5 linked regions of the Homo sapiens genome follow. The protein of the gene in region 2 purifies or fractionates together with the protein of the main gene of each other region. This does not show direct contact. Each region holds a gene or a part of one and is shown on either strand. Other genes may lie near its edges.

Region 1 (5,994 bases), on a different chromosome or scaffold from region 2:
GAGCCTTTTATCTAAGGAGCCTAAAGTCTGAAGATGTCAAAGTTAAAAACAGAGTGTGGGGAAACTTCCAGCAATGGGAAAACACAGGTCAACAAAGGACCTTGACGGTGCTGCCCCATCTCAAACTTGGCAACTGCAGGTCACATTTTGAACACCTCAAGAACCTCTTCTCTGCCGGGCCTGGTGGCTCACACCTGTAATCCCAGCACTTTGGGACCAAGGTGGACAGATCACCTGAGGTCAGGAGTTCGAGACCAGCCTGGCCAACATGGTGAAACCCTGTCTCTACTAAAAATACAAAAATTAGCTGAGTGTGGTGGAGGGCGTCTGTAATCCCAGCTACTCTGGAGGCTGAGGCAGGAGAATCGCTTGAACCTGGGAGGTGGAGGTTGCAGTGAGCTGAGATCACGCCACTGCCCTCCAGCCTGGGTGACAGAGCGAGACTCCATCTCAAAACACACACACACACACACACACACACACACACACACACACACAAAGAACCTCATCTCCTAGGCCCTCTCCTCAGCAACAGTGAGAAGCCTGGCTCATACCCTCCTCTCTTCCTCCTCTCCTTCACTTCTGGGATCAGGGAAACTTTGCTCTGGGAGGCAGGAGGTGGAAAAGCCACACGAAGAGGAAGAATGGAAGCCAGTGACTCAGTTTAACAGGAGACACTAGAGTCAATGTGATACCACACCTTCCCCAAACATAAGGTCCAAAAAGCTTCTCTCCTGTTGCCAAAAATTCTTCTATCACCCCGTTGTACTCCTCCTTGGCAGCATCAATCAGGCAGGGCTCAGCCCACACCCGGCTCCTAAAGACAAGAGAGCAGAGAAAGCAGAATGGTGTTTAGAGACCATCGCAGTGACCTGATCCTGAAAGCACCTGTAGGAAATTGGCCTCCGCCAAGTGAATGTGACAATGCAGTCAGCCACAGTGACGGAGTGCAAGATCGGATCACCACACAGATCCAAGAGACCGCTCACCACACCTGAGAAACAAGAACCCAAGACAGCCTCATGGAGGTGGAACCGTGCTACGCAGTTATGGCTTCACTACTGAATGCGATCTTGCAAAAGTGATTTAACCTCTGTGAGCCTCAGTTTCCTCATCTGTAAAATGAGTGAAGATTAAATAAGACAACACACAAAAGCCCTTCAAACATTTATACAGTAAATGTTAGTTTTCTTCTCCCTACTTAGAGGAGAGATAAGAAAGCGTTCTAATAGTAGAATCTGGAATTGAATAAAACCTTAAGAGACAAACCTTTTTTATTTTTTTTTTAAGACAGGTTCTTGCTCTGTTGCCCAGGCTAGAGTACAGTGGTGTGATCCAACCTCCACCTCCTGGGGCTCAAGTGATCCTTCCATCTCAGCTCCCCAACCCCAGTAGCTAGGACTACAGTTGCACATCATCATGCCTGGCTAATTTTTTTATTTTTGTAGAGGTAGGGTTTCGCTATGTTGCCCTGGCTGGTCTTGAACTCCTGGGCTCAAGTGATTCACCTGCCTCAGCCTCTCAAAGTGCTGGGATTATAGGCATGAGCCACTGTGTCCGACCCAAACCTACTAATGTTAATAGAAATTTGTTAACTGCCTTAGGTACAATAATGGGATTGTGGTTATAAGGGAGAATGCCTCTATTCTTCAGAGAGGCACACAGATTTACTTGCTTTTAAATGGTCTAGCAAAAATAAAAACAAATCCACTCATAAAACTAATATGACAAAGTAGATGGTTCTATAGGTGTTCAATGCATCATCCTTTCAATTTTCTAAATATTTGAAATTTTCTTAATAAAAAGATAGGGAAACAAAGGTGGCTTGGAGGAAACAAAAACAAAAACAAAAACAAAACAAGAAGATCCAGTCTAATGGAAAGATGCAATGGACTCAGGGATCCTGCAGCCAAAGGCTCTGCTTGACCAAGAGCCCCTGGCTGCGCTTAGAACTGCTTTTCCACACAGACATATGAATGAGACTGGCTGGGCCTGGTGGCTCATGTCTGTAATCCCAGTACTTCGGTAGGCCGAAGTGGGTGGTTCACCTGAGGTCAAGAGTACCAGACCAGCCTGACCAACATGGTGAAAGGCTGTTTCTACTAAAAAAAAAAAAAAAAAAAAAAAAAATTAGCAGGACATGGTAGTGTATGCCTGTAATCCCAGCTACCTGAGAGGCTGAGGCAGGAGAATCGCTTGAACCTGGGTGGCAGAGGTTGCGGGGAGCCAAGATTGCACCATCGCACTCCAGCCTGGGTGACAGAGTAAGACTCTGTTTCAAAAAAAAAAAAAAAAGAGACTGATGGCAAAGTGGGATGGGTCCAGGCCCGGATGAGGGAAAACTTCCTCTGCGTTTGCTGAAGCATAGGAACTATTCTAACAGGAAGAAAAGATACAGGGAAACCAGTATCAGGTACTTCCCAAATATCAAAAGCAAAGACGTAGCCATGGAACACTGCATATGCATGTGAGGAAGCACCGAGAGTCTGGGATTACTTGAGGACAGGATCAGATTGCAATGAGGGAGGCAGTGGCAGGAGGTGGGACATGAGATGCCCAAGAGGGTCGGGTCATGAAGAGCCTCAGGTGCACTGTTACAGAACCGGACCTTCAGAGCCATGGGAGCATTTTAAGCCAACAAGTGACATTATCAGATTTAGTTTTAAGATATCATCCTGGCTGCAGAACACAGAAAATATGTTAAACTACAAGAATGGGTGAGCTCTCCAAGGAAAGCATGTAGAAGAAAAGAACAGGTCAAAGACAGAGCCTTGGGCAACATCGACACACAAGGAGCTGGGCAGAGGAGTCAGGGAAGGAGATGAGAAAAGGACTAACCAGGAGGCCTGATGACCAGCATGGGTGGTGTCACAGAAGCCAGAGGAGGGTCAATGGGGGCAGAAGAAAAACAGCAGAACATGAAGGCAAGGGCTAAAAAGCATCACATATGTTATCCGTATTGAGGCGAATGGCCTCTCTTACTAGTTTCAACGGCATGGCAAGGGTGGGGGGCTGGATTCCAATGGGTTGTAGCAATAAATGATTGTGGGGTGGGGGGGTTTCAAGAAGTGCAGCCAGTGCGTATACATGCCACTGAAGTCACCTGGCTACAGAGGGAAGGACAGTGTGTCGTGCCAGAAGAGAATATGGAGTTAAGGGTTTTTTGAGTTGTTTGTTTGTTTGTTGAGACGGAGTCTTGCTCTGTTGCCCAGGCTGGAGTGCAGTGGCGCGATCTCGGCTCACTGCAAGCTCCACCTCCCGGGTTCACACCATTCTCCTGCCTCAGCCTCCCAAGTAGCTGGGACTACAGGCGTGAGCCACTGCACCTGGCCGAGTTTGTTTTTTTTTTTTGTTTTGGCTTTTTTTTGAGGTGGAGTCTCACTTTGTCACCCAGGCTGGAGTGCAGTAGTGCAATCTCGGCTCACTGCAACCTCCACCTCCCACGTTCAAGTGATTCTCCTGCCTCAGCCTCCTGAGTAGCTGGGATTATAGGTGTGCACCACCATGTCCGGCTGATTTTTGTGTTTTTAGGAGAGATGGGGTTTCACCACGTTGGCCAGGCTAGTCTCAAACTCCTGACCTCTGGTGATCCTCCCACCTTGGCCTCCCAAAGTGCTGGGATTACAAGCGTGAGCCACCACACCCAGCCTTGAGTTTGTTTTTTGCTTTGCTATAGATCTTAGAGAAACTGGTGCTTGTCTAGAGGGGGAGGCTGCAGATTTGAAGAGAGAGATGTAAATGATGAGGCAAAGTCCCAGAGGACATGTAAGGGAAGAGATTTGGCTTTAAACAGAAGGAAGGACCTTTGTTGCAGTCCGGAAGGATAAAAGCAGATGAAGATAACTTTTTAAGTGGAGGACAGGAAACTGACATAATCATATCTGATGAATTTAATATTCTCAATAAAACAGGAGACAAGACCTTCTGCTTAAATGAGGGGATGGGATTGGATAGCAAACTTAAAGAGAAGAGTAAAGTCTTAGAACAGCTTAAAGGGAGTGAGATGGAAAGGTAAATAAGAGGACTGTTGAACAACCTTGAAAGCACACCTGCAGTTGAAGACTGTACATCTGTTACATTTTTCTGGAAAACCCCACACATGTCTATTTCAACTTTCCTTTAATTCCAACTTTTCACGAAGAATTGAGAAAGGTGTAGTGGTTATTACTGTGTAGTTTCACTATTTTCTACATCTCCCAAATACCCACTTATAGAAGTAGAGAAAAGGAATTGTATAACAAGGGACTGGGACATTATAGCAGCGGGAAGTGGGCAAGGGGCTTTGGGGTGTTGGTAAGAGGTAACCAACCACACACTTGGGCCAGGGAGGGAAGCCCAGTCAGGAGGGTCTTGACTGCCCAGGAGAAATGAGTGGCTTGCCGGAAGGGAGGCTGCCATGAGCTCAAGGAGGAGACATGGTGGAATATAGTGGGAGAGAGGCCGTCAGAGAGCTGGAAGGTTAGCAGAGTCAGGATGAATGAGGACAAGGGGCTCAAGGGCCTTAAAAGTTCAGATATGGTACAGTTCATGACAATGACGATGTCTAGGCTCTAGACTCCAGAGCATGGGTGTGAATATGGGTGGCTGACAGAGTGGAGAAGGCTCCCTGAGTAGAGGTCAAGAAACCCTGAAGGTTGGTGTTGTGGCTCATGCCTGCAATCCCAACACTTTGGGAGGCCGAGGTGGGAGGATCTCTTGAGCCCAGGAGTTCAAGATCAGCCTGGACAACATAGCAAGACCTTGCTCCTGCAGAAAATAAATAAAATTAACTGGGCATGGTGACAGAGTAGCTGTGGTCCCAGCTACTCTGGAGACTGAAGTGGGAGGACTGCTTGAGCCTGGTAGCTTGAGGTTCAATGGGCTGTTATTGTGCCACTGCATTCCAGCCTGGGCAAGAGAGCGAGGCAAGAAAAGAAAGAAAGAGGGAGGGAGGGAGGGAGGGAGAAAGGCACAAGAAACCCTGCAGCCACCCTCAACCCTGGGTGTTAGGAGAGAAAAGTCGCCAAAGATGATGTGACAGGAAACCAGACAGAAAAAGATCATGGGACGGCAGTCAGTATCTTCAAGGAATTACTTTGTGAATTGTTCTACCACCACCTTGGATGTCAAAATTACCACAGTCCTTCAGCCCAGTGGACTTCAGCTTGTTACAACTAGAAGGTTTAAGACAGTCATCCAAGATACCTCCACCAGGACACACATTTCTGTCAAAATAAATCAGGATGCTCTCAGTCAAGCTGCAATCTCACTACCTGTAGTATATTGCAAAGAGCACTGGATTTGCAATGGAAATACCTGAATTTTAATTCCAGTTTTGCCAACTAGTGGTCCTGCACAAGCCACTCACCACAGCCTTGGTTTGCTTATTTTTAAAATGTAGAAAGTATCATCCTCATGGAGTCTGTGTAAGGATTAGAAGAGATTATACATAAAAGGGCCTACTGGGATATACCCATAATTCCCCTCTGCCCAGGATTTTCCTCTTGCAGTAACAGGGACTGGGATAGGTGGCATACCTTGCCAGAAGACCCTCCGATTTAATAAACCCCCACGGCCCGGCGTGGTGGCTCATGCCTGTAATCGAGCACTTTGGGAGGCCGAGGTGGATGGATCACGAGGTCAGGAGTTCAAGACTAGCCTGGCCAACATAGTGAAACCCTGTCTCTATTAAAAATATGAAAATTAGCCAGAAATGGTGGCACACACCTGTAGTCCCAGCTACTTGGGAGGCTGAGGCAGGAGAATCACTTGAACCCAGGAGGCGGAGGTTGTGGTGAGCCAAGATCGCGCCACTGCACTCCAGCCTGGGCAACAGAGCAAGACGCCATCTCAAAAATAATAAATAAATAACCCCCCACAAGACCCTACGATGTGACCCAGGAGGCAAGAACTGTCCATTTAATCACGGAAGGAATAAGGCATTACCACCAGTTAAGTGGATTCTGTCACCTAGTTCGATATACCATGTTGTCATTTTATTACAGGCAGTATAAA
Region 2 (5,994 bases):
CTCCGCCTTCAGAACTGAGCACGAGAAGCCCTCTTCTCCCGCACAAGTCCTAGTCCTTCAGATGGCAGCTTGGAAGTCACTTCTTCCAGGAAGCCCTCCCTCTGCCCCTCCTAGGGCCCAGACAGGGCTGTCCTTCACCAGCCAGAGTGCGGCCCAGTGGCCGGATCCTGCCGCCTGCCCACCACACCCAGTGCCCGGAGGACCCCTATGCCCTGGACTGGGTTTGTGAAGAGCACTTACTGGTCCCCGTGGTCCGAGTGGCACGCGGCCCCCACACTGGCCATCAGCACTCGGCACTGCGCAAGCACCACGTGGCCTGCGGAGACAGAGCACATGCCCCTGAGATGGGGCTCCAGCCAGGTTGCCCTTCTGTCCCTTCCCGGGGTCCTGCTGGGCGCAGGCTGCTTCCCTCCCTCTGTGCCACCTGGTGGAATTCCAGCACTGGCCATTCTGGCAGCTGGGGAGAGATCTCACAGCAGGAGCCGAAGAAAACGCTTCCTTTCTCCCTTGGCTGCACAAACGCAGACACTATTCTGCCTCACAAAGCTGGCCTTGAAAATCGCATTTGTAATCAACTGCCTGCTAAGACACCTGGAGTCCTGACCCGCTCCTTCCTTACAAGCTGGCAGCCCCGGCAATATCACGTCTCCACCTGTGTTCTGGATGGTAGAGACACGTGGGAGTTCTATTAAGCCAGAAGGCATTTCCCTCTTCTTTCACAAGCACAGCCATTAATGACTGCTGATGTAATTAACCTGAGAATTTCAGCCAGGTGCAGTGGCTTACACCTGTAATCCCAGCACTTTGGGAGGCCAAGGTAGAAGGACTGCTTGAGCCAGGAGTTTGAGACCAGCCTGGGCAACACAGGGAAACCCTATCTCTACAAAATATTTTTTAAAAATTAGCCAAGGCCGGGCATAGTGGCTCATGCCTGTAATCCCAGCACTTTGGGGGGCCAAGGTGGGTGGATCGCCTGAGGTCAGGAGTTCGAGACCAGCCTTGCCAACATGGCAACACCCCGTGTCTACTTAAAATACAAAAATTAGCCCAGCGTGGTGGCAGGCACCTGTAATCCCAGCTACTCTGGACGCTGAGGCAGGAGAATCGCTTGAACCCAGGAGGTGGAGGTTGTGGTGAGCCGAGATCATACCACTGTACTCAAGCCTGGGCAATAAGAGTGAAACTCCATCTCAAAAAAAAAAAAAAAAGTTATCCAGGTGTGGTGGTGCATGCCTGTAGTCCCAGCTACTAGGGAGGCTGAGGCAGGAGGATCACTTGAACCCAGAAGGTCAAGGCTACAGTGGGCTGTGATTGCGCCACAGCACTCCAGCCTGGGTGACGACAGAGTGAGACCCTGAATCAAAAAATAAATAAATAAAATGAGAACCTCTGTCTCATTTAAAGTAACACAGGTTGTCACTGAACACAAAGTCTGACCCCAGAACAAGGGGAACGTTGACAGAGAACTCTCCTTTCCATGGTGAGGAATTTGAGATGGTCAAGGAGACCCAGGCTTCACTGCCCACAAGAACGCATTTCAGCCCAGGTTCTCATGAACGCAGCCATCATGACGGTTACCCACGGGTTCTTCTTCATGGGCCAAACACGACTGCTGGGTTTCTCTGCGTGATCCAGGAAGAAGAAAGAAGCAACACTTTCATCTTCTAAGAAGTCAAAAACTTGTTTACAGATGCAGCTCATCGTGATCTCAGGGCCACTATAACCTCCTCCCAAATGACATGCGGCTGGTCAATCACCTGGACTTCCACTCTCAGGGAGTCAGGGCAGACCAGGTTTTAGGTGCATCTGGGACGGGGGTGATCCTAACTGCTCCTAGCCGAGGCAGATGTTGCAGGAAATCCAGATTTGCACTTGATCCTTACTCTGCCAGTTATTTTTGTTGTTTTTTGTTTGTTTGAGACAGAGTCTCACTCACTCTGTCACCCAAGCTGGAGTGCAGTGGCTCAATTATGGCTCACTGCAACCTCCAGGTTCAAGCAATTCTCCTGCCTCAGCCTCCCAAGTAGCTGGGACTACAGGTGCACACCACTATGCCTGGCTAATTTTTTGTAGTTTTTGGTAGAGATGGGGTTTCTCCATGTTGGCCAGGCTGGACTCAATCTCTTGACCTTGTGATCAGCCTGCCTCAGCCTCCAAAAGTGCTAGGATTACAGGCACGAGCCACTGTGCCCAGCCTCTGCCAGTTTTTAAAACTGATCACCTCCCCTTTCCCTCACTCAAATATTTAATTAAAACTGCCAACAAAATAGACAAATGTCTAGAATTTAATGTTGCTTCCTTCCCTGACGGCTTTTGGGGTGGCGCTAATGCCAGACACGAGAGTTTGCCACAGTCCACATCCCAGCAGCAGCAAAATGAGCCACGTCAGGGAGAGGAGGGGCCAGCGGCGAGAGCCCTGTGGACCACAGCACAGCCACCCGAGCCTGCTCTTGGCAACCCCAGCAAGGCCCTCTGACAGCCCGAGCTGTGTCATGCTCAGGGCAGGGCGAGTGGGAGTCACTGGCTCGGACCAGAATCCACGCACCGAGGGAGCTGTGCTCACACTCGGAAAGACCAGGGTGAGGGGCCATCACCTTGAAGCCGGGGTCCCCGGATGGAAAAGTTACAGGTATTGGGAAGCCGCTGGGTGCCTGGAAACTGGCTATTCAGATGGATTCTCTTCTGACCGAATTCAGCCTGAAAAAAATAAGTGAAATATTTGGTGACAGCTTCAAAGACACCACCACCAGCAACTGTTTGAAATTTAGACTTTTCCAGAAACACAACTTCAGCAGGTGCATACTTTTCAATCAGCATCTACCCAGAATAGTTACGGGGACGGACTATGGAAAGCAAAGTTAATTAGGAGAAAAACCAAATATTCAGAAACATATGAACCTTCCACATAAACCATGAGGTATACCACCTCTGCATATTTGATCCTGTGTCTCTGAAAAAGATCATGCCCCTGGCCTAGGGTCCTGCTTTCGGGGTTTCAGATCCCAATGTACTTTCTGCCACTGTTCTTTCTTCCCTCACTGCATCCTGCTGAGTTCCAGGCTACGCTGCAATCCCCACAGGTCCTGGGGTCTGGGAGCACCACACCCCTCCTCTCTGGGCACCTGCCCCACGCACCCTCCCCCTCCTGGTGCCCACCCCACGCTGCGCTCACTTCCAGCCTCTCTTCCAGGTAGTCGCGGACGTCCCTCATGTGGGCCTCATAAGCCTCGCAGTTCTGGGTCACCAGCTCCGCGGCCTGGGGGCAGACACACAACAAGTGGATGCACAATTCTTGCAAAATAAAGGAGGGCCAAAAAGCTTTCAACGGTACAGGTGGCATTTCCTGAAACTGCTCATTCTCCTGACAGTCACAGACAGACCATATTTTTTGAGTGCTGCCATTTGGAGGGTGTGGAAGTGCCCCAGAAACTGACTTCACCAGGTACCTCCTGACAGCACCAGGCACTGGAGATGCCTCAGCAAAGCAGCCCTGAAAGGGCTCCCTCGAGGAGCCAGCATCCCAGAGAGGCAGACGGACAAAAGCAGGGGAAGAGGGGAACAGACTCCTACCCACCAGTTGGCGCTGTGAAGGCACCTCGCAGGCCCAAGGTGGGGTGGTGACAGAGATGGCTGTACAAGGGCAGGGAATGGCGTCCCAGCAAGGGCTTTGCAGGGGACAGACAGACATTCTGTCTCTAGAACAGAGGGGCCTGGCGTGGCGGGTGGAGAGTGTGGAGGGGGTGAAGGCGCAGGGACAGATCGACAGGCCCTGCAGGCCCGGCCACGGGGCAGACGCAGTGAGGCTGAGGGAGGGATGCGATGGTCTGACTGGCCTGTCTGTTGGTCATTCTGTGGCCGTGTGGAAAATGGCAGCAGCAGGCCCCCAGGAGGCCATGGCAGGCATCCAGACCCTTGGTCTAGGGTTGGTGGCCATGAAAATGGACATGAGGCCGGTAGTGGGTGTATTCTGGAATCCAGACAGACAGGAAGGTGCTGCATTGGAGGCAGGGGACGATGACAAGGAGGGACTGAGGGCATCCCCCGGACTTCAGAGGTGAGAACCTGGATAGCAAGAGGTGCCCAGGGTGGGAAGAGGGTTGGAGGAGAGCAGTCGGGACAGGTTTTGAACTCAGAGGAATGGATCTCTCAGGACATGGGCCAGGGCCTAGCTGAGATGTCAAGTTTAAAGGCAGGAGCACAAGCTAGCATCACAGTGACAGGACAGACGGACCCACAAGGGCTCAGGTGCAGGGCTGCCAGCACGCAACCAAGGCAGAAAGGAATGGGTGAGGGAAAGCACGCTGGGGAGGGCGTGTGCAGGATGGAGTCTAGGCTGGGTGGCGGAGGGGGGCTGTCTAGAGCGCTGGTGGCATTGGGGTCTGGGCTGGGCGAAGCTGAAGAACCAGTGGGGGTGTGGTGCTGTGGCTGGGACCCAGCTGTGGCACTTGTGCCATTACAGGTGCAGATGCAGCTGCAGGAGCACGGAGAAGGTCAGGGGCTGGGGGGCTTCCAGCACTGTGAGCTGAAGCTCTACCTAGGAAGCTGTTACCGTGATTCCCATCTGGCAGCCAGGACTCAGGGAGTTCCAGCGACCTGACCCAAGGCACACGGTGAGTGAAGCTTCAAGCCAGGATTTGAACCCTGGGTATTTCAAAGCCTGTGGACGGCACCACTACTTCATCACTCAGGTCAATACGAGCAGGTACCGGACTCCACTTAAAACACACTCTTCCGGCTGGGCGTGGTGGCTCATGCCTGTAATCCCAGCACTTTGGGAGGCCAAGGCGGGTGGATCACCTGAGGTTAGGAGTTCGAGACCAGCTGGACAACATGGTGAAACCCTGTCTCTACTAAAAATACAAAAATTAGCCAGGCATGGTGGCGCATGCCTGTGGTTCCAACTACTTGGAGACTGAAGTGGGAGAATCTCTTGAACCCGGGAGATGGAGGCTGCAGTGAGCCAAGGTCGTGCCACTGCACTCCAGCCTGGGTGACAGAGTGAGACTCCATCTCAAACAAACACACACTCTTCCTTCTAGTAAATGTAGCCACAGTTATCACTGTTAATAATATAATTTTGAATATTCTAAGTAACAGGGAATCCATTCATACTCTTCCCAAGGCCCGGCCTCCTGGGCGCTAAGCCCTTTCTCTGTACTGGGGATACTGAGGCCGACATGGCCAAGCCCCTGCTCTCGGGGAAGCAGAAGGTGGGGCATACATCTGAACACACTACAGAGAAACATCAGATAGGGGAAATAAAGCAGTGTCAGGGATAGAGGGTGACAGCAGGGGACATGGGGGAACCAATGTAGCTGTGGTTCATGGAGGGTTGCTTGAAGGTGGTGGCCTTTGACCAGAGGCCGCACAGTGAGGGAGCAGCCTGCAGACGCCGAGGTGTAACCAGTACCTCTGCCTTCGCACGGCAAAACCTGAGCCTGGTTACTGTCGCAGAAGCAGGACAGGCCCCAGTGGAGGGCTGGTGGCAGGTGCTGGATTGGCCACCCCACAGACCAATCGGGGACAGAACGTCGATGGTGCGGGGGCTGCCGACGCCTTTGGGAATGGTGAACCTGCAGCTTGACACTTCACCTCTGCTGTAACAGTATCACTGTTTCTCATGTCAGAAGAGACACAGACAAGGAGTTTTTCCCTTTTAAATGCTAAACAAGTGCCACTAATCCACAGATCTGAAAAAGTACAGCTCTCCAGGTTGATAAATCAGATTCCAGGCTTTTTCTTGTCAGTCCGCTTATGAGATCACGAATATGATCTCCCTAAAGCCCCAGATTCCTACTAGAGCCGCTGGGGACACTGATGACAAAGCAATCAACTCATCTCCTCAAGCTCACCAGGGCTCACCTTCCCAAGGCCAGCAATCATTGGGGTGTTCTCTGTCCTGTAAGAAACAAGGGATTAAGCAAGAATAAACAAATGTCTCAGGAAGGAATCCTGTCTCCATGAAAGTCATTGTGTTAAAATAAAATCAAACTC
Region 3 (5,994 bases), on a different chromosome or scaffold from region 2:
GGCTCACGCAGGCTTTGGTCCTCCTGAAATGACACCAGCCTGAGTGAGAAGCAGTTGGCCCTTGGGGAGCGGGGAGATGATGGAACGCTGTCACCGGCAAGAAGGGAGGCCAAGTGGCCCGGCAAGCCACAAGAATGGGGCAATAAGGGGAGCAGGTGGAGGGGCCTCGGAGAGCAGCCAGGCTAGTCTGGGGATGGAGCCACCTGCTCTGAGAGATCAAAAGTAGGTGTGCGGCACTGTCAGGACAAGTCTCTAGGACTGGGGCATTGGCAAACAAAAGGGGCAATGTCTGACCCGAGATGATGTTCTACTTAATGCATCTCATTTCCCCCAAAACCTGTCACCTGCAGACAGAGGCTTGGACAAGTAGCTCAGATGTACTCTTTTCCCCAGGAACTGCAGGCCGACAAGGACAGAAAAGCTGCAATGACTGCTCCTTTCTCAAGGGATGAAAAAACAGGCTGTTTCTTGGATGCTGCACTTCACAAATGTACTAATTGCCCCCAAAAAAGCAAAGAGTAGATTTTCCTGCCTAGATGCATCACTTGGCATTGACTACACCATGGAAAGCAAGAGTCTGTCTATGTGGGCTGGATTCCTGAACTACAGCTTAGAAGGGAAGGGCGTAGAATATCATCATTAACTGGCTCACAAGGAATAGTCATCTTGGGCGAACACATGCTAATACGTTTCACAGAATGAGGGGTGACAGCCTAGAATCCAAAATGTGATGTTTGGAACATTTCTCGCCAAACCTTACTATGAAAGCCTGCAACCAGTGAGAGGAGAACTGCAAAGACGGCAGCAGAGAAACAGCAAACAGCACAAAAGAGATAATTTACCAAGAGACTTTCCCTCCTTTCAGAGGCAACCAAGCCAGAAGGAGATGACAGAAGTTCACGTGTACAGAGAACAGAAGGGCTAAAACCAGAAGAAGGTGAGCTAATCATGAAAGCAATTTATCCCATTTTTGTTGTTCAATAACACTGGCCAACCTGCTAGGGTCAGATGTCTTCTTCAGAAAGGCAGCATCTCTGAACCTGGGATAAAGGACACTTGAACTGAATGCATGAGCAGAAGGACCCAATGGAGAAGCATAATTGAAATCATCCTTGGACTGCTTAAGAATTTCTTGAAAACTTCCAAAGAAAGAAGGTTATCTGGATCTGCAGCTATATGGCTGTATAACTATCTTCTACCTGGCTCCTCCTGGAAGAGGTCTTTGTCTGCTTGGGAGCTGGGGCTGTTGAGCGGCACAGCCCAGGCACAACCATGCCAGGCTGGGCCTCTAGGCCAAGCTCAGTGAGGGGTGCAGACAATCATCCAACCAGCAATGGAACTCCTTGGAGATGGGGGCCCAAAGGGCAAGACATTTAAACAGGAGTCACTGGGAGATACTCTGCTGCTCAACGAACACCACAGCAAGTGTGAGAGCTCCTTGCCCAAGACTGAGCAGCTCTTCCTCTCCCACCGTGCGTTCACAGGCAGCAGCAGCACGGCGGGAGGGAGCCCAGGAAAGGAAGCGTTGATGAGGTACCAAAAGAAGAACTGACATCTTTGGGTTCTTAAAACAAAAACTCAAATTGAGGAAGCGAGAGAATGAAAAAGGGAAAGAATTAAATCTGAATCAATGGACAGAAATATGTGGCTTACTAACCCACCCCCATTTTGCATACAATTTTATACAAAAAAGGAAAAAAAAAACACCCCAACTCATTGCAATGCAGTCCAAATGTTTGCAACCAAAGATGTATGAAAATATTTCAATTGAAACTGCTTTTTTTTTTTTTAAAAAAAACAAAGCTTTTGATCATTCCCTTGTCAACATAATTGGCAGATCTACTCTCAAACACACTTAAGAGTATTCCACACAACATGTTCGGAATTCAGATTTATTGATTTCCATCGTATTGACTTTAAAAATGGTATGAAGCTGACTGCAAGAAAGGGAACTGGTAATTTTAAGTTAAAATTAAGCTAATGGTGAAAGTACATCACCTCTGGCTTCAGTCACCACATCACCTCAGATTGAATATAGATTTTTTATGAACAAAGTTCCAGAACTCTGAAATCCAGGGATGCTGCAGGCCTCTCCCGGCAATGTCCTTCACTTTGGGTCAGTCTCCTGGGCCAGAGGTGAAAGTGCTTTCAAAAATACTGCCATTTCCCCAGCACAGTGTCTTTGATTGCATCCACATATTGAGTTGGAACCCAGTACACCCAGTAGTAAGAGGCTTCCGTGGGGCCCAACTGAAACGCCTGGAAGGGAAAAAGGAAAACCAAGCGGTACTTCAGAGGTCGGGAGACCAAGCAGGCAGGACAAACATGGGTGAGGGTTGGGATGTGAGTTAATTAAAAAGGGAAGAAAAACCAAACAAAACTTTGCACGTGGGGAGCATTCTCCCAACCAAAAACAAAAACAGGCAGGCTGAGGGTTAAGCTGAGCCAACCCTAAAGCAGCAGTTCTCAAACCTGAGTGGTCATCAGAGCCATCCGGGGGGCTTGCTGGAACATGGATCAGCAGGCTCCAACCCTGTGAAGTTTCTAATTTGGGGAGGTCTGGGGTGGGGCCTGAGAAACTAGCAAGCTCCCAGGTGATGCAACACTACTGATCCAGGGACCACAGTTGGAGAAACGCTGCCCTAGAAAACCTGTCACACATGCTCAAGAAAACAGGTATGAATGTTCATTGCAGCACTGTCTGAAACCACAAAAACCTGGGGCAACCTACATATCCATCAGTAAGGGAATGCAGAATTCAAAGTGACAAGGCTTAGTCACACCAATACTGGAGCTCTTTTTAAAGAGGTATCAACTGGGTCCATATGGATCTACAGTTAATACTGACAGATTCTTATGTTGAACCAAAGAAAAGCAAGTTGTAGAACAATACATAATACCATTTACGAAAACTGGAAGCACAAAACAACACTCCATCTTGTTCGTGGATACACGTGTAAATCAAAGAATGGATAGATGGGAAGGACGCACGTGACACATGACGATGGTAATGGGGGAGGGGAAGACAGTGGGGCCATCATTGCTGTGAATAAACTTTATTTCTTTTATTTAAAAAAATTAAAGCAAATTACAAAATATTTACAATTGCCACTTCTCAGTGATGGATATATGGGTTTGTGACAGTTATTCTCTTTCTTTTCTGTATTTTATTTTTATTTTTTCTGAGCTGGAGTCTCTCTCTGTTGCCCAGGCTGGAGTGCAGCGGTGCAATCTCAGCTCACTGCAACCTCCGCCTCCCACTTTCAAGCGATTCTCCTCCCTTAGCCTCCCAAGTAGCTGGGATTACAGGTGCGCGCCACCATGCCCAGCTAAATATTTGTATTTTCAGTAGAGACAGGGTTTCACCATGTTGGCCAGGCTGGTCTTAAACTCCTGACCTCAAGTGACTCACCCACCTCGGCCTCCCAAAGTGCTGGGATTACAGGTGTGAGCCACTGCGCCCAGCCTCTTTTCTGTATTTTAAAAACATTTCTCTAAAAATGAAAAAGCACAGCCACAGTTTTCCAACTGTGAATGATGACATGTTAATTTAGCTAGAGAAATAGCATCTGCCCAAAGAGATAACTAAGTACTTTCATTAGGACAAAGGTAAAGGTGTTTGGAAAAGAGAAGGGGACTACTAGAGCTATCCTCTGCCAGAAATAACTCGAGAGAAATGAACATTTCAATGAAATACTAAGTCATTACCCATCCACACCAATTCCTCCAAAGACGTCCAAAACAGTCCACTCAACTTCCTTGGACTCCCTACCACCACACTGCTTGAAAAGTCAGGCTACAAACCCTACAGGGTGTGACTGGCAACACAAACTATTCAAAAAGGAGTGATGGGGCCCAGTTAAAAACATTCAAGTCCAACTGTTTTTTTTTGTTTTGTTTTTTTGTTTGTTTTTTGAGACAGAGTCTCTGTCACCTAGGCTGGAGTGTAGTGGCACGATCTCTGCTCACTACAACCTTCGCCTCCCAGGTTCAAGCAATTCAAGCAGTTCTCCTGCCTCAGCCTCCTGAGTAGCTGGGATTACAGGTGCCCGCCACCACGCCCAGCTAATCTTTGTAATTTTAGTAGAGACGGGGCTTCACCATGTTGGTCAGGCTGGTCTCAAACTCCTGACCTCATGATCCGCCCACCTCAGCCTCCCAAAGTGCTGGGATTACAGGCATGAGCCACCACGCCTGGCCCAACTGTTAAAACAGAAAAAAATAACTGACCAGGCCAAACCAATTTGTCTGCAATCCTTGTAATAAAGACTACAGAGAGAGGGCTGGGCATGGAGGCTCACGCCTGTAACCCCAGCACTTTGGGAGGCTGAGGTGGGCGGATCGCCAGGTCAAGAGATTGAGACCATCTTGGCCAACATGGTGAAACCCCATCTCTACTAAAAATACAAAAATTAGCTGGGTGTGGTGGCGTGAGCCTGTAATCCCTGCTACTCAGGAGGCAGAGGCAGGAGAATCGCCTGAACCTGGGAGGCAGAGGCTGCAGTGAGCCGAGATAGCGCCACTGCACTTCAGCCTGGTGACAGAGCGAGATTCCGTCTCAAAAAAAAAAAAAAAAAAAAAGACTACAGAGAGAGTAGGGGTGGAAGGGCTGCCAAGGGGCATCATCACTTCCAGAAGACAAAACCCCAAGAGCCCCACAGCCTAGGGACTGCACTCCCAGCTACAGCCTTGCTACAGCCACACTAGGCAGGATGCCAACAGGGCTGCCTCCCTTGCCCACCATATTTTAAGCCCCTTTGATTTTTTTCTATAGCAAGAGGATCTTCCAACACATCTCTCTGCCTGGGACTTGTTATCCCAATCTACTGGTCAAACCACTAGTTCCTTCTTTTCCCTGGGATGGGCTGATGTGGCTTCATCACTGTGGGATGGACACTGAAAGGCCTGCCTCCTTGGATGAACAATGGCCGGAGGCCCCGCCCTCACATTACAGCTGCTCAGGCCAGGCCCCTGATGGGCAACTGCAGAATCAACTTCGTGGTCAATGTGGCTCCTCCAAAGAGCACTGGGAAAATTTTGGAAACTGCCTAAGCTGCTCATTTTACCAGATGAATGAATTTTTTGCTTTGTTCTGCAGACCTGCACAACACCTCCAAACATTCTGTCTTGGGAAAGAGTAGCCTGCTCTCTGCAGAGTGGGTTCTATGCAGAATAGACGCTCCACAGAGCCCGTCTTCCCCACGAGGCCCTCAGCCACTGGGCCTGGAAGAGCGGCATCGTTATTACAGAAAAGAGGCTGTCTGGTGCCCTCACCAACACCAAGGCTAAGGGCAAGTTTTGTTTTATAAGCAAGATAAAACTTATAATGAAAATCCACAAGCCATTCCTCCTCTTTATATTTATTTTCCTGGTCTAGAAACAACACACGACAAGAGGGAGGCAAGAGAGACTTTTCTAAAAGAGGTAAGAGAAAACATATCCCCTTTAAACTGATGGAAGGTGTGTGTGGGGGGGTGTAAAATAAACAGAACTAGGAATAGAGGCCATGGATTAAGTTCTAAGTAGATGAAGAAAACATCAGGGTCTTAAAAAAGTGCATCTTCTGGAGACTGAGTTTTCTTCCGTTAAACAAGCTCAGTTAAAACTGTTCCCTGCCAGGTGAAGTGGGAGTCTAGTGAGAGGGGCTGAACTCAGCCAGCGCTACTTACCATCATGTGGTAGTCTTCATGTCCTTCGATAGGTTCACTGACCACATTTTTTATGGAGCCCATGGGCAATTTCTCAGTCCGCTCTAAGTTGAGAGGGATTACAGTGATTATTCAAAGGGCCCTCCTGTTCTAACTTCTCTGACTCAGCAGTCCCTCATCAGGGCTGGTGGCTGCGGGATCTACAGTAAACTCAAGTGACTGGCGCCATGCCCTCTGGGGACAACACGACAGGGTCTTCTGACCAGTGCACATAGGGCTTCGTGTGGGAGCTGGGAACTCCGTAGGAGCAAGTGGGAAACTGGGTTTGGCAATGGTATAGTAAAGG
Region 4 (5,994 bases), on a different chromosome or scaffold from region 2:
ACTGCACTCCAGCCTGGGCGACAGAGCGAGACTCCGTCTCAAAAAAAACAAAAACAAACAAAACAAAACAAAAATACTCAAGGCTAAGCCAAGTGATTGAAACTTTATCTAGAACTCAACTCAGTAACTCACTAAACCAGATTTGGCCACACAAATATAAAAATTTTCTGTACAACAAGAGGCACAGGCCAGGCACCGTGGCTCACGCCTGTAATCCTAGCATTTGGGAGTATGAGGCGGGAGGGTTGCTTGAGGCCAGGAGTTTGAGAACAGCCTGGGCAACACAGAGGGACTCTGTCTCTACTGATGGAAAATCAAAAAAATTATCCAGGTGTAGTATCACGTGCCTGTAGTCCCAGGTACTCGGGAGGCTGAGGCAGGAGGATTGCTTGAGCCCAGGAGATCAAGGCTGAAGTGAGTTATGATCACACCAGTCTGGGTAATAAAACTGAGACTCTGTCTTAGACAATAAATTAATTAATTAAATAAAAATAAAAGGCACCATGAGCAAGGTCAAAACAGGAAGAGAAAAATATTGCAACATACAAGAAAGAGGTAAAATATTTAATGAGGCTGGGCACAGTGGCTCATGCCTGTAACCCAGCACTTTGGGAGGCTAAGGTGGGAGGATTGCTTGAGCCCAGGAGTTTGAGACCAGCCTGGGTAACATAAGGAGACCCTGTCTCTATTTTGTTGTTGTTGTTGTTGTTGTCACCCAGGCTGGAGTGCAATGGCACCACCTCGGCCCACTGCAACCTCCGCCTCCCGGGTTCAAGCGATTCTTGTGCCTCAGCCTCCCAAGTAGTTGGGATTACAGGCACCCACCACCACGCCCAGCTAATTTTTATTAGAGATGGGATCTCACCATGTTGGGCAGGCTGGTCTTGAACTCCTGACCTCAGGTGATCTGCCAGCCTTAGCCTCCCAGAATGCTGGGATTATAGGCGTGAGCCACCATACCCAGCTTTTGTCTCTAGTTAAAAGAAAAAAAAAAGAAAGAAAGAAAGAAAAGAAAAAGATACATACCCAAATGATTTTTTTTTTTTTTGGATCAAAGAAGGAACTTTCCAACCAGCTCTGAGACCAGCCTATTGGCAGGGATGTAAATGAGTAAACCTTACTGGAGGGCAATTATTTACTTAGTTGTTTGTTTATTTTTCAGACAGGATCTCACTATGTTGCACTGGCCTCAAACTCCTGGGCTCAAACAATCTTCCTGCCTCAGACTCCCAAGTAGCTGGGATTATAGGCACACACTGTTTCTTAACAATATCCACCTATTGTATTTATAAATATTTATAGTCTTTCTTTTGCTAGTTTTACCTCCAGGAATTTATCTTAGAGAAATACATATGTATACAAAGATGTCCACACAGGGATATTTGCTGTGGCATTGCTTATGATATTGAGATAGCAGAAGCAGTCCATCAGTGCAGAACTGCTTAAATAAATTATGGCACATCCAGGCAACAGAACAGTATGCAGCCATTAAAAAGAACGAGTGCGGTCGGGTGCGGTGGCTCACGCCTGTAATCCCAGCACTCTGGGAGGCTGAGGTGGGTGGATCACGAGGTCAAGAGATCGAGACCAACCGGACTAACATGGTGAAACCCAGTATCCACTAAAAATACAAAAAATGGCCAGGTGCGGTGGCTCACGCCTGTAATCCCAGCACTTTGGGAGGCCGAGGCAGGCGAATCACGAGGTCGGGAGTTTGAGACCAGCCTGGCCAACATGGTGAAACCCCGTCTCTACTAAAAATACAAAAATTAGCTGGGCATGGTGGCGGGCGCCTGTAATCCCAACTACTCAAGAGGCTGAGGCAGGAGAATGGCTTGAACCCAGGAGGCGGAGGCGGAGGCGGAGGCGGAGGTTGCAGTGAGCCGAGATCGTGCCGCTGCACTCCAGACTCCAGCCGGGGCGACAGTGCGAGACTGTCTTAAAAAAAAAACAAAACAAAAATTAGCTGGGCGTGGGGGCGCACCCCTATAGTCCCAGCTACTCGGGAGGCTGAGGCAGGAGAATCTCTTGAACCTGGGAGGGGGAGGTTGCAGTGAGCCGAGATTGCGCCCCTGCACTCCAGCCTGGCGACAGAGGGAGACTCCATCTCAAAAAAAAAAAAAAAAAAAGAATGAGGGTTCAGTGGCTCACGCCTGTAATCCCAGCACTTTTGGAGGCCGAGGTGGCAGGATCACTTGAGCCCAGGAGTTTCAGACCAGTCTGAGCAACATGGTGAAACCCTGTCTCTAAATTAGCTGGGTGAGGTGGCATGCCCCTGTTGTCCCAGCAACTCTAGAGGCTGAGGTGGGAGGATCACATGAGCCCCAGGAAATGGCATATCATGTGAGCCCCATGAGGTACAGGCTGCAGTGAGCCGTGATCATGTCACTACACTCTAGCCTAGGTGACAGGAGTGAGACCCTGACTCAAAAATAAATAAATAAATATATAAATAAAATTAGCTGGGCATGGTGATGCACACCTGTAGTCCCAGTTACTCCAGAGGCTGAGGTGGGAGGACCACTTGAGACTGGCAGGGTCAAGGCTGCAGTGGACCATGATCGCACCATTGCACTCCAGCCTGGATAACAGAGTGAGACCTTGTCTCAAAAAAGAAAAAGAAAAAAAGAACCACTGTTCTAATCCAAGCAGTGTCACATATTTACTATGTGGTCCTTTCCGGAAAACGTTTGGATTTATTGTGTAATCCAACCAGTAGCTCATCTTTCAGGACTTGGTTTAAGTGTCACCTCCTCCAGGAAGTCTTCGTGCATCTCTCCAGCCCCCTCCCCAGGTTTCATTCCCTCTTTCTTACTCGCACGATATCCCATCCTCCTCCATCACATCATGTATCAACTGCCTGTCGTTACTGGCTTCTTGTCTGCCATCCCCACTAGACCACGAGGCGAAGGCTCTGGGACAGAGGATACGCTCAGTAAACACTGAACTATGGTCATACAGAATCCCCTGGCTCTGTCCCCTGAAGCCTGACAGCTGTGTGGGCTTGAAGTCCAGAAAGCCCTGTCCCCTTCCTCCCCCAGTGCCTCCACGAGAGATGGGGAGACTCACAAATGTCTTGGTGTACTGGTTAAGCATGAAGTCTCCACTGACAGCGTGCTGAAAGGCTTCCACGGCAAAGTCTGGTGGTGGGAAATCCGGGAAGCCCTGGCCCAAGTTCACGACGTCATGCTCACTGGCCAGTTTCACAAACTCCACCCTGGGTAACAAATGGAGAATCAGCACCAGCCCAGCCCTCCATGGTGACCTGGACTTCGGCCTGTTTAGAAAAACTGGACAACCGGCCAGGTGTGGTGGCTCACGCCTGTAATCCCAGCACTTTGGGAGGCCGAGGTGGGCGGATCACCTGAGGTCAGGAGTTTGAGACCAGCCTGGCCAACATGGTGAAACTCTGTCTTCACTAAAAATACAAAAGTTAGTCAGGCATGGTGGCAGGGGCCTGTAATCCCAGCTACTTGGAAGGCTGAGGCAGAAGAATCACTTGAACCCGGGAACCGGAGGTTGAAGTGAGCCGAGATCGCACCATTGCACTGCAGCCTGGATAACAAGAGTGAGATTCTGTCTTAAAAAAACAAAAACAAAAAACAAAAAACACACACATACACACACAAGAAAAACAAAAACTAGACAATCAGCAACTGTCCTGGCCTGAAGATCTGCCTAAGTGTCACAGCTGGTCCCCTACATTGAGATTAGGTCAGTCAGGCACATTGTTAATCGCAGGAATCAGCCCAGGGGCTTTCCAAGTTCTTCCACCATGACCCATAGGAAGAAATCATCTTTTTTTTTTTTTTTTGACAGAGTTTCGCTCTATCCCCTAGGCTGGAGTGCAGTGGTGCAATCTCAACTCACTGCAACCTCCGCCTCCCGAGGTCAAGCGATTCTCATGCCTCAGCCTCCTGAGTAGCTGGGATTACAGGCACCCGCCACCACGCCCAGCTAATTTTTGTATTTTTAGTACAGATGGGGTTTTGCTATGTTGGCCAGGCTGGTCTCGAACTCCTGACCTCAGGTGATCCACCGCCCCCCTTGGCCTCTCAAAGTGCTAGCAGTACAGGCGTGAGCCACCACTACCGGCCAAGAAATCACCTTTGCATCATCAACCCTGTGGAGCACAAACATGGAATGGAAGCTTCATCCTTCTTGGTGCAATCTACTGCAGTATTTTCTGTCCTGTCCTATCCTACTCTATTCTTTCCAAATACTAGTTGAGACCCCCTGTACAGATTGCATGACTCCTCCTTGGATTCGTCAACACCACAGTTAAACGCTCTGCTCATATAGCCTTCACAATGGCCTGTGAGGCACATCTTGTTCCTGGACCACTGTGGGGATAAGGAGTGGAGTGACTTGCCTAAAGCCTCCCAGCTAGTACAAGGCACAGCCAGCCAGCCTTTCTACTTCCATCTCAAGCAAAGTTTGATGCTCTTGACCCTACTCTGGGCAGAACAGGGCCCCACCAGCCCAGGCACACATCATCTCTGGACCCATAATCCTCTGTTCTGGCCCTGCCTGGGGGCCACCTCTCCAGGTGGGAGAAAGGCTGGGAAGCTGGATGAAGAGGCTGGTATGTGGTTTGGGGCTAGTTTGGAGCAGAGTGAAGACCTGGCTGAGTTGAATTTGCATACCAATAAATATGTCTAAAATGTGTCATTTTTGGCTGGGCCCGGTGGCTTATGCCTGTATTCCCCAGCACTTTGGAAGGCCGAGGAGGGCAGATCCCTTGAGGTCAGGAGTTTGAGACCAGCCTGGACAACATGCTGAAACCCCATTTTCTCTAAAGATATAAAAATTAGGGCCAGGCACAGTGGCTCATGCCTGTAATCCCAGTACTTTGGGAGGCTGAGGCGGGTGGATCACGAGGTCAGGAGTTCGAGACCAGCCTGGCAAACATGGTGAAATCTCATCTCTACTAAAAATACAAAAAAAAAAAAAAAATTAGCTGGGCGTGGTGGCGCACGCCTGTAATCCCAGCTACTTGGGAGGCTGAGGCAGGAGAATTGCTTGAACCTGTGAGGGGGAGGTTGCAGTGAGCCGAGATCATGCCACTGCACTCCAGCCTGGGTGACAGAGTAAGATTCTGTCTTGCGGGGGAAAAGAAAAAGAAAAAAAATTAGCTGGGCGTTGTGTTGCACGCCTGTAATCCCAGCTACTTGGAGGCTGAAGCAGGAGAATCATTTGAACCCAGGAGGCAGAGGTTGCAGTGAGCCGAGACCGCACCATTGCACTCCAGCCTGGGCGACAAGGGCAAAACTCCGTCTCAAAAATAAAATGAAAATAAAACAAGTCAAAAAAGAAAACAATATCAACCTCTGCAAATGTCTGGTGAAGAGCTGACTGTATCTTACTTGCTTATTTTACTTATCTTAGTTTATCTGACTCTATACCAAGTGAGAAAGAGTCATCCCTGGAAAGGCCTTAGCTTGGTGCCTGGGTAGAATGGCTTTGGACAGCATTTTACTTTTTCCTCCCCAACGCTCTCCAGGTGGGTATAACTCTTCATTTTGCAGCTGGGGAGATGAGGCTCAGAGCAGGTATGTCACCTGTCCTAGTGGCACAGTCATGCAGAAGAAAGCTGAGATTTGAACCAAGCCTACTCCCTCGGGCCCTGTCTCTCCTGAGCTATGGCTGGAATCTGGCAGTCTGTGTACCGCCACCATCTGGAGTACTACTGAGTTGCTGTAAACCCAGGGATGGCCAACCCATGCCCGAGGGGACACCCACACACCTCCCCAGCCCAGCTGGCTCACCAGGGGTTGTAGTCGATCCCGTCTAGCCTTCGGGCCTGCAGCTGTTTGGCCATGGCGAGCTGGAGACGAACAAGTGGAAGGTCAGAGATGGAATCTGTCTGGGTGCAGCAGTCCGAGCTTGCACACAGGAGGGACAGCTGCTTTCAGGCCACAGCGCCATCCTGTCTGCTCCCAGGAGGGGGAAGAGATAGAGTTTGCAGAAGGGCAGGTTTCTGCCTGCCTCCCA
Region 5 (5,994 bases), on a different chromosome or scaffold from region 2:
CCCACCCAAACACTAAGCCAGGTCCCTACCTGTCCAATGCACACGACCACGGCGTATCCCCCGGGGCCGACGGCTACGCACTTTGGCTGAACGTCCAGTTTCACAACTCCTTGTCCGCTGTTAGAGAGAAAGGAAGCACATTACTTCGACAATGCAGCAGCTCAGGGTAGGTATGCATACATATTTACTGTTAAACCACAGTTTTGCTCCTTAGAAGGCAATTCTATTGCCACCTATACTGGAGAGACTTGCTAAAATATGGGATGGTAGCGAAAAAACGATCCATGACTCTGGTGCAAAGAGATTATAAGTCATAATGGGGGCCCGGGGAGGGGTGGGGGGGGGGGAAGGAGGGGCGGGAGGCGGTGAAAGGCGTTGATTATGCTCCTATTTATCTGTGGTAAGCCCTCATTACACCCAGATGTGGCTTTTGTCCCCCTGTCTGTTGGCTAAAGACTGGAGTTTACTGAGCACAGACAGAATTGAGCTCTGCTCCCCAAAATGGATGGGTAACTTTTAAGAATCCGTTACCTTTAATGGGTGAAAATCATGTTATTTTTAGCCTTGGCCAATGCTATCAAAACTTGTTCTAGAAAGACTCATACACACAAACTTCTTGAAAACTGAGATAATCAAGGAAATTTCTGTGTCACTCGGCCAAGTGTGGCATCCCCAAAGGCTCTGCAGCAAGGTCACCAGGCCAAGGCTGGCTCTGTAAGGGCCTTGCCTTGGGTTATCTGGCCCAGGGAAGACCCTTTTATGGGACGTGTTAAGAGTGGGGTCACCACAGGGCAGTAGAAAGAGGACCAGGGCCCAGATGCCTGGGCTCTGGGGCCGCTTCTGCCACTCATCGGGAGGCCCAATTTACCTACAGATGCCCAGTCTGCCAGGCAGGCAGGGCCTGTGTTACCTACAAGGACGGCACACCTGCTAGGAGTTGCGTGCTGCACCCTGTGCCAGGCTCCCATCAACAGGCCCCAGGAGTCCCCATCTCCCAGGCAACACGACTTAGGCAGGACTACCGGGTGACAAAGGGGTCTACACAAGAAATGTAGGGCCAGAGGAGGGGTCAGACCTGGGCATGGGGACACTGGATGTGCAGTGGCCTCGTCAGGTCCTGGAACATTTCTCTTTCAAGTCCCTCCAACTGCATTTAGGACTTCAGATCACTTGCAAACTGCTACTCTCCTAGCTCCACTGACTGCCAATCAAAGGCCCAAGACCAAAAACAAACAAGACATTGTCTTTTAACCAGATCACTGTGTGCCCATCTCACCCTTGAGCAGAAGGGGAATGCTGTCTTGTACTCAGCACCTGCCCTGTGCCAGGCTCACCTAATCCACAACAGCCTGAGGCAGGCTCCACTGTACCCGCCTTTACTGATGAGGAAAGGGACACAGGGAGAGACCGCAGCAGGTTCCTGGAGAACAGGGCTGTGATCTGCTGCCCCTGCTTCCAGGGCAGAGTCCACACCTGGTCGTTGTCTGTGGGCAAGAGCATTACCCAGACCACCTGGATCTGTAACACAGTGCTGGGCTCAGGGCCCAACAACAGGAGAACAATGCTGGGGACGGGGTGGGAGAGATGAAAGGAGCAAGTGAGGCGTCCTCCAGAACAGTAACTGCTGGAGGGCACAAGCCCTCCGAGGGGAGCTGAGGCTCATCCGGAACCCCCGCAGACCCGAGTGCTCTCACCTGTAGTCCCGCAGCATGAGGCTGGTGTACCGCACGGTGTCGTCCATGCTGCAGCTGATGAGCTGCCCCGACTCATCCACGGTCATCCTGGACACCTGGTTCGTGTGGCCTTTCCCAGCGAAGGAGTCGTTCTCCCCCGTCTCTGAATCCCAGTAATGTAGGGTGGGGTTAAGGAAAAGCCCGGCTCCCAGGACTGCTGGGTGTTCTCAGGTGTGGCTTCAGTCCTAAGATTCTCCATTTACATCAAGAATGAGAATCTCGCCGCAAACGGACATAACCATTCCCCCTGGGAAGCCTGCAGTGTCCACTGTTGACACGTTCTTAGGAAGGGGTATCTGAAGTGTGGGTGCACCACACAGGGATTGGGATGAGGCAGAAAGGGAGCCGTGCTGAAGGCCTACTGGGGACCAGCAAGCTGGGGAGGCTCCGGCGTCTCCTCTGCTACTAGTTATCGGGTAGGCGCAACCCTCTAACCCCACATTTCTTTATGTTTTGGGGGCAGAGGGTGGCATGTCTGCCCTCCTCTCCCAGCCTGGGGGGACCTCCTTGGGTCCCGGACAGTCCCTTTGGGAGGTACAGCACATGCGGACCAGAGCTGTCCACACAAAAGGCAGTCTCCAACACAGCACGGTGCTCAGGGAGGGCAGCAGAACAACGCACAGCAGGTGCCATCATCAGCAACGTGTGTGGGCATCCCTGCCCAGGCACTCTGCAGATGGTGGCTCCAAGGTTCAAGACACACCCGTGAGCAGGGTGTCACCAGCCCCAGGCCATGCAGGAAAAACACAACAGAAGCCCCCATCATCAGGGAGAAACCAGGACTCATTTAAAGAAACCCAGACAAGGACTTATAAGGGGGACACAAACACCTCCAGGGAACATCACCGAAGGGCCACAAGGCACCTCGCAGGAGCTCCAGCCCTGGCTCTGTGGACCACAGGCTGCATGACTCTGGGGCGGGCACATCAGCTCTCTGGGCTCTGGTTTTCCTATTTTTAAAACAAGGGGACCCAACGTAAGGGTGTCCAGGTGCTTGTGAATTCTAGGAATCAAGAAACCCACCATGTGGAGTAGGGCCAAGGCTGGCGCCAGGTGCCATTGGCAGAGGTAGTGGCAGCCCAAGCTCAGGGCCGTTAAGCCACACTCTCAGGGTTGCACGACAAGAAGGGACTGATCAGGTCGGAGCCGCCCATGGCTTTTCCTCAGCATAAGCCCTGGAGTTGCCAAGGACAACTCCAGGGGACAGTTGCCTGTCCCCATGTACAGACAGGCCACCCCTAGAAGCCACACGGGTCAGAAGAGCGTGTGGCTGTGGCTGCAGCTGGAGCCACCTGGCTGGCCTGGCCTCTGGCATCATGGGAACAGGAAATTCCCCCCTAGAGCCAGCGGCTCCGGAGCCAGCTCTTTGAGTCAAAGGATATTAATGTGTCCGTCGTGGCTCCCAGAGTAAATGTAGGACTTGCCGCCGTTTTTATGCACCGTCAGACACTGGATCGATTTACTGTGACCCTGTGAAGGAGACACACTGGGCGGGTAAGCTGATGACACACTGCCCTGCCCTCTGCCACCCGCTTTCCACCAACGAAGCTTCTGGGTAATGGAGGGGGCAGACGCCCCTCAATCCATGGCAGTGCAGGTGCTCTGAGGCCCCAGTAGCCCCAGCTGCCCGAATGCACGGCCCACGAGCCCTAAGAAACCTTTCCAAAGCTACCCAGTCACCTACAGACCCTGCCCTTCATTCCCCTCCCTCCAAGGTACCTAACCCAGACCTGGGCCCAGACCTGCGTCTAACCAAGGCCCAGCACGTCAGCACCTGAGCACCTAACGTGTGCAGACACGTGGCCTGCACCCCGCCGACCAGCACCCGTCGCGGGGAGCCACAAGGGGGTCGGTCCAGGAGGACTTCGCTGGCCACATTCGCTTCAGGCCCTGGTTTGTGAGGTTTCTTCTCTCTCCCTGCCCAGGAGTGCTGGCCCTGCTGAGGGCAGGGGTCTCTCTGATCACTGTAAAAGCCCAAGGCTGTCCGTGAACGCTGACGCTCCTACCCTAACCTCCCTGACTGCTGCAGTGGAGGGCACACAAGGCTGGTCCACAACCAGACAGCTGCTTCCAGAGGGCGGCGTTTAGCCCCCTCCATATCTGAGCCTGAGACAAAAATAACAGCTAGGGTGCAGGCTCCTCATGCCTTTCTCCTGCAAAGGGAGGCCAGCTCCTGGCTGGCCCCTCTCCTCTGAGCTCAGGGCTTTTCCGCAGGAATTCTTGATCTCTGTGGTATGCCACATGTTGCCACAATATGGCATAGATCTTTGGATGCAGGTCTCCTTGGAGACAGGTACACAGTTACCAGTGGGACTGGAGAATGGGCAACGAATGCAGCTACTTTCATCTTTTCCACAGAGACGTGGGGAAAAATCATCACATGCCCCAGTAAGAGACACTGAGCTGGGCGGCCTCCTTCCAATGTGGCATCCCACCAGTCCCTTACAGCGCGGACCTCAGACCAGCACAGCCCCCACCAGCAGGGCTCAGGCCCACCTTCCTGCCAAATCAGAACGTGCACTCGGCAAGAGGCCAAGAGACTTGTGTGCAGGCTCAATGCCTTGAACTTACCAGAAACACTCCTAGCCATGCCCAGATGCCCACGGGTGTTCCTTCTGGAGGCCTGCAAGCTCCTGCTGCCCTGAGACTTCCCTGTAAACTTAGTGCCTCTGGGGGCGTCAGCAGCCAGCGCTTTTTAGAGCTCCCAGGTGGTTCTAACACGCAGCCTGGGCTGATACCTGCTGCTCCATCCCACTGCAGCCCAGATCAGCACCGAACATCAGCATCTGCGTGACTCACACAGGTGTGGCATTTGAGAGTTGGGACATGGGGGTTTTGACAACTGGCCCTTGGGGTTTTGGTGGAAGGGTGGGATGCTGGTTGCTTTTTTGGGACATAAGTTTAGCCACGGTGGCAGGCCGGGTGCACTGGCCCCAGACAGTTGGCAGCAGTGGTATTAGGAAGAGCACTCTCAGGGCAGCCCTGCCAACAGAAACGGGACGGCAGACCTGAGGGCTGACACCTGGAGAACACTGTCGGGGATGGCTCATGGGAAACTGTTTTTCTGGGCAGTAGCGAAGCCTTACTCACCCGTGTACAATTTCTCACCATCCCACTTGGAGGCCCACTGGAGCATGGTCTCGACAAGAGCCCTCAGCTCCCCCAGGCAACAACCTCCTCGGCCCCATGCTGTGCGTGCCTTCCTTTTTATACTCATCACCCTGGGCTGTGAGCCCAGCAAGGAGGCGCTCCCGATTCCCCTCTATCCTCGAGGCCACGTCTAGTGAACCTTTATGGTTCAGCCTTCCCCCTCTCAGCAGTGCTGCTGCCCCCACTGCCCCGGCACAAAGGAACCGTGACTCTATGCATGAGCGTTGAGGTGACCTGGTCCGTAGGAGTCACACACACAACGTTAACGAGGCCCCTTCCTCGTGGGCAAACTCCCATGTAGAATGGATTTGGTGATTCTAGCAGCCCCTCCTAGAAGCCGTGGTGTGAAGGAGCCACTGACAGCACAGCACGGGCCGAGTGCACAGGCCCGGGGGCTGCTCCAGGCTGGCCCACACTAGCCCTGCAGGGTTCAGACCCTCTGCAGAGGCTGGTCCCCCAGAGCTCCACGGCAGCAGGATGCAATGGGTGAGGGAAGTGCTAGGGTTTGTCTCCCCGAGTGGCTTAAAGCAGGAGCCCGAGAAGGGCTGCTGGGATGAAGTGCATTGTCCACCTGCCTTGATATTACAGCTTAGAATAGCAGGAGGGGTCACCCACCCTGGGCCACCAGCGCTGGGGGAACCTGACTTGGAGTTCCCAGCAGATGCAGTGTGGGAAGCAGGCGAGGGCGCTGCTGTGAGAGGAGGACCTGAGGATACAGAAGGGACCCCTGCTCTGGCTCCTGTCCAGCTGCGAGATTCCCAGAGGCGTCAACTTGGCTGGTGTGGGTGGAGGGAGAAGGCAGGACCCCCCCAGCCAATGGAACACAGGGAGCCTTTGGCTCAAGTGAACCCTTCCGGGTTAGGGTTCAGAAGCAGGCACCTTGCTCCTCCCCAGGTTGGCATTTGGGGCCTTCACACCTGGGACCCATGGATGATTCTAACTCCGTTTCCTCCTGCTCCCATCGCTCCCTTATGGAACTCCAGTATCTCCTTCACACCCTGCCCACCACATTCAAACTCCAGGCAGCGCCAAGGCCCAGGCCCAAGGCCACCTGCTCTTGCTCCTCCCTCCTGCCCCTGGACCTCAGCGATGCCCCGTCACCTGCCCTGGT

Evidence for each region.
Region 1: the proteins of SCLY (region 2) and RNPEP fractionate together in Homo sapiens (co-fractionation; one large-scale study listed by BioGRID). This does not show direct contact.
Region 3: the proteins of SCLY (region 2) and UBFD1 fractionate together in Homo sapiens (co-fractionation; one large-scale study listed by BioGRID). This does not show direct contact.
Region 4: the proteins of SCLY (region 2) and KYAT1 fractionate together in Homo sapiens (co-fractionation; one large-scale study listed by BioGRID). This does not show direct contact.
Region 5: the proteins of SCLY (region 2) and WDR1 fractionate together in Homo sapiens (co-fractionation; one large-scale study listed by BioGRID). This does not show direct contact.

Annotation. Positions count from the first base shown.
Region 1 is NC_000001.11:201,990,970-201,996,963, reverse strand, and holds part of RNPEP (aminopeptidase B), read right to left. Parts: intron 818-5,994; coding exon 701-817; exon of another isoform or gene 555-700; intron 1-554. UniProt on the Homo sapiens protein: Exopeptidase which selectively removes arginine and/or lysine residues from the N-terminus of several peptide substrates including Arg(0)-Leu-enkephalin, Arg(0)-Met-enkephalin and Arg(-1)-Lys(0)-somatostatin-14.
Region 2 is NC_000002.12:238,091,123-238,097,116, reverse strand, and holds part of SCLY (selenocysteine lyase), read right to left. Parts: intron 5,900-5,994; coding exon 5,863-5,899; intron 3,257-5,862; coding exon 3,173-3,256; intron 2,698-3,172; coding exon 2,595-2,697; intron 317-2,594; coding exon 241-316; intron 1-240. UniProt on the Homo sapiens protein: Catalyzes the decomposition of L-selenocysteine to L-alanine and elemental selenium.
Region 3 is NC_000016.10:23,566,745-23,572,738, reverse strand, and holds part of UBFD1 (ubiquitin domain-containing protein UBFD1), read right to left. Parts: exon of another isoform or gene 5,759-5,994; intron 5,753-5,758; coding exon 5,670-5,752; exon of another isoform or gene 5,669-5,669; intron 2,260-5,668; coding exon 2,149-2,259; coding exon of another isoform or gene 2,108-2,148; 3' UTR 1-2,107. UniProt on the Homo sapiens protein: May play a role as NF-kappa-B regulator.
Region 4 is NC_000009.12:128,839,585-128,845,578, forward strand, and holds part of KYAT1 (kynurenine--oxoglutarate transaminase 1), read right to left. Parts: intron 5,934-5,994; exon of another isoform or gene 5,828-5,933; coding exon of another isoform or gene 5,822-5,827; coding exon 5,769-5,821; intron 3,577-5,768; exon of another isoform or gene 3,218-3,576; coding exon 3,070-3,217; intron 1-3,069. Other genes in the region: KYAT1-SPOUT1 (uncharacterized protein LOC127739546), read right to left, coding at 3,070-3,217, 5,769-5,821. UniProt on the Homo sapiens protein: Catalyzes the irreversible transamination of the L-tryptophan metabolite L-kynurenine to form kynurenic acid (KA), an intermediate in the tryptophan catabolic pathway which is also a broad spectrum antagonist of the three ionotropic excitatory amino acid receptors among others.
Region 5 is NC_000004.12:10,081,328-10,087,321, forward strand, and holds part of WDR1 (WD repeat-containing protein 1), read right to left. Parts: intron 3,204-5,994; coding exon 3,116-3,203; intron 1,852-3,115; coding exon 1,695-1,851; intron 118-1,694; coding exon 30-117; intron 1-29.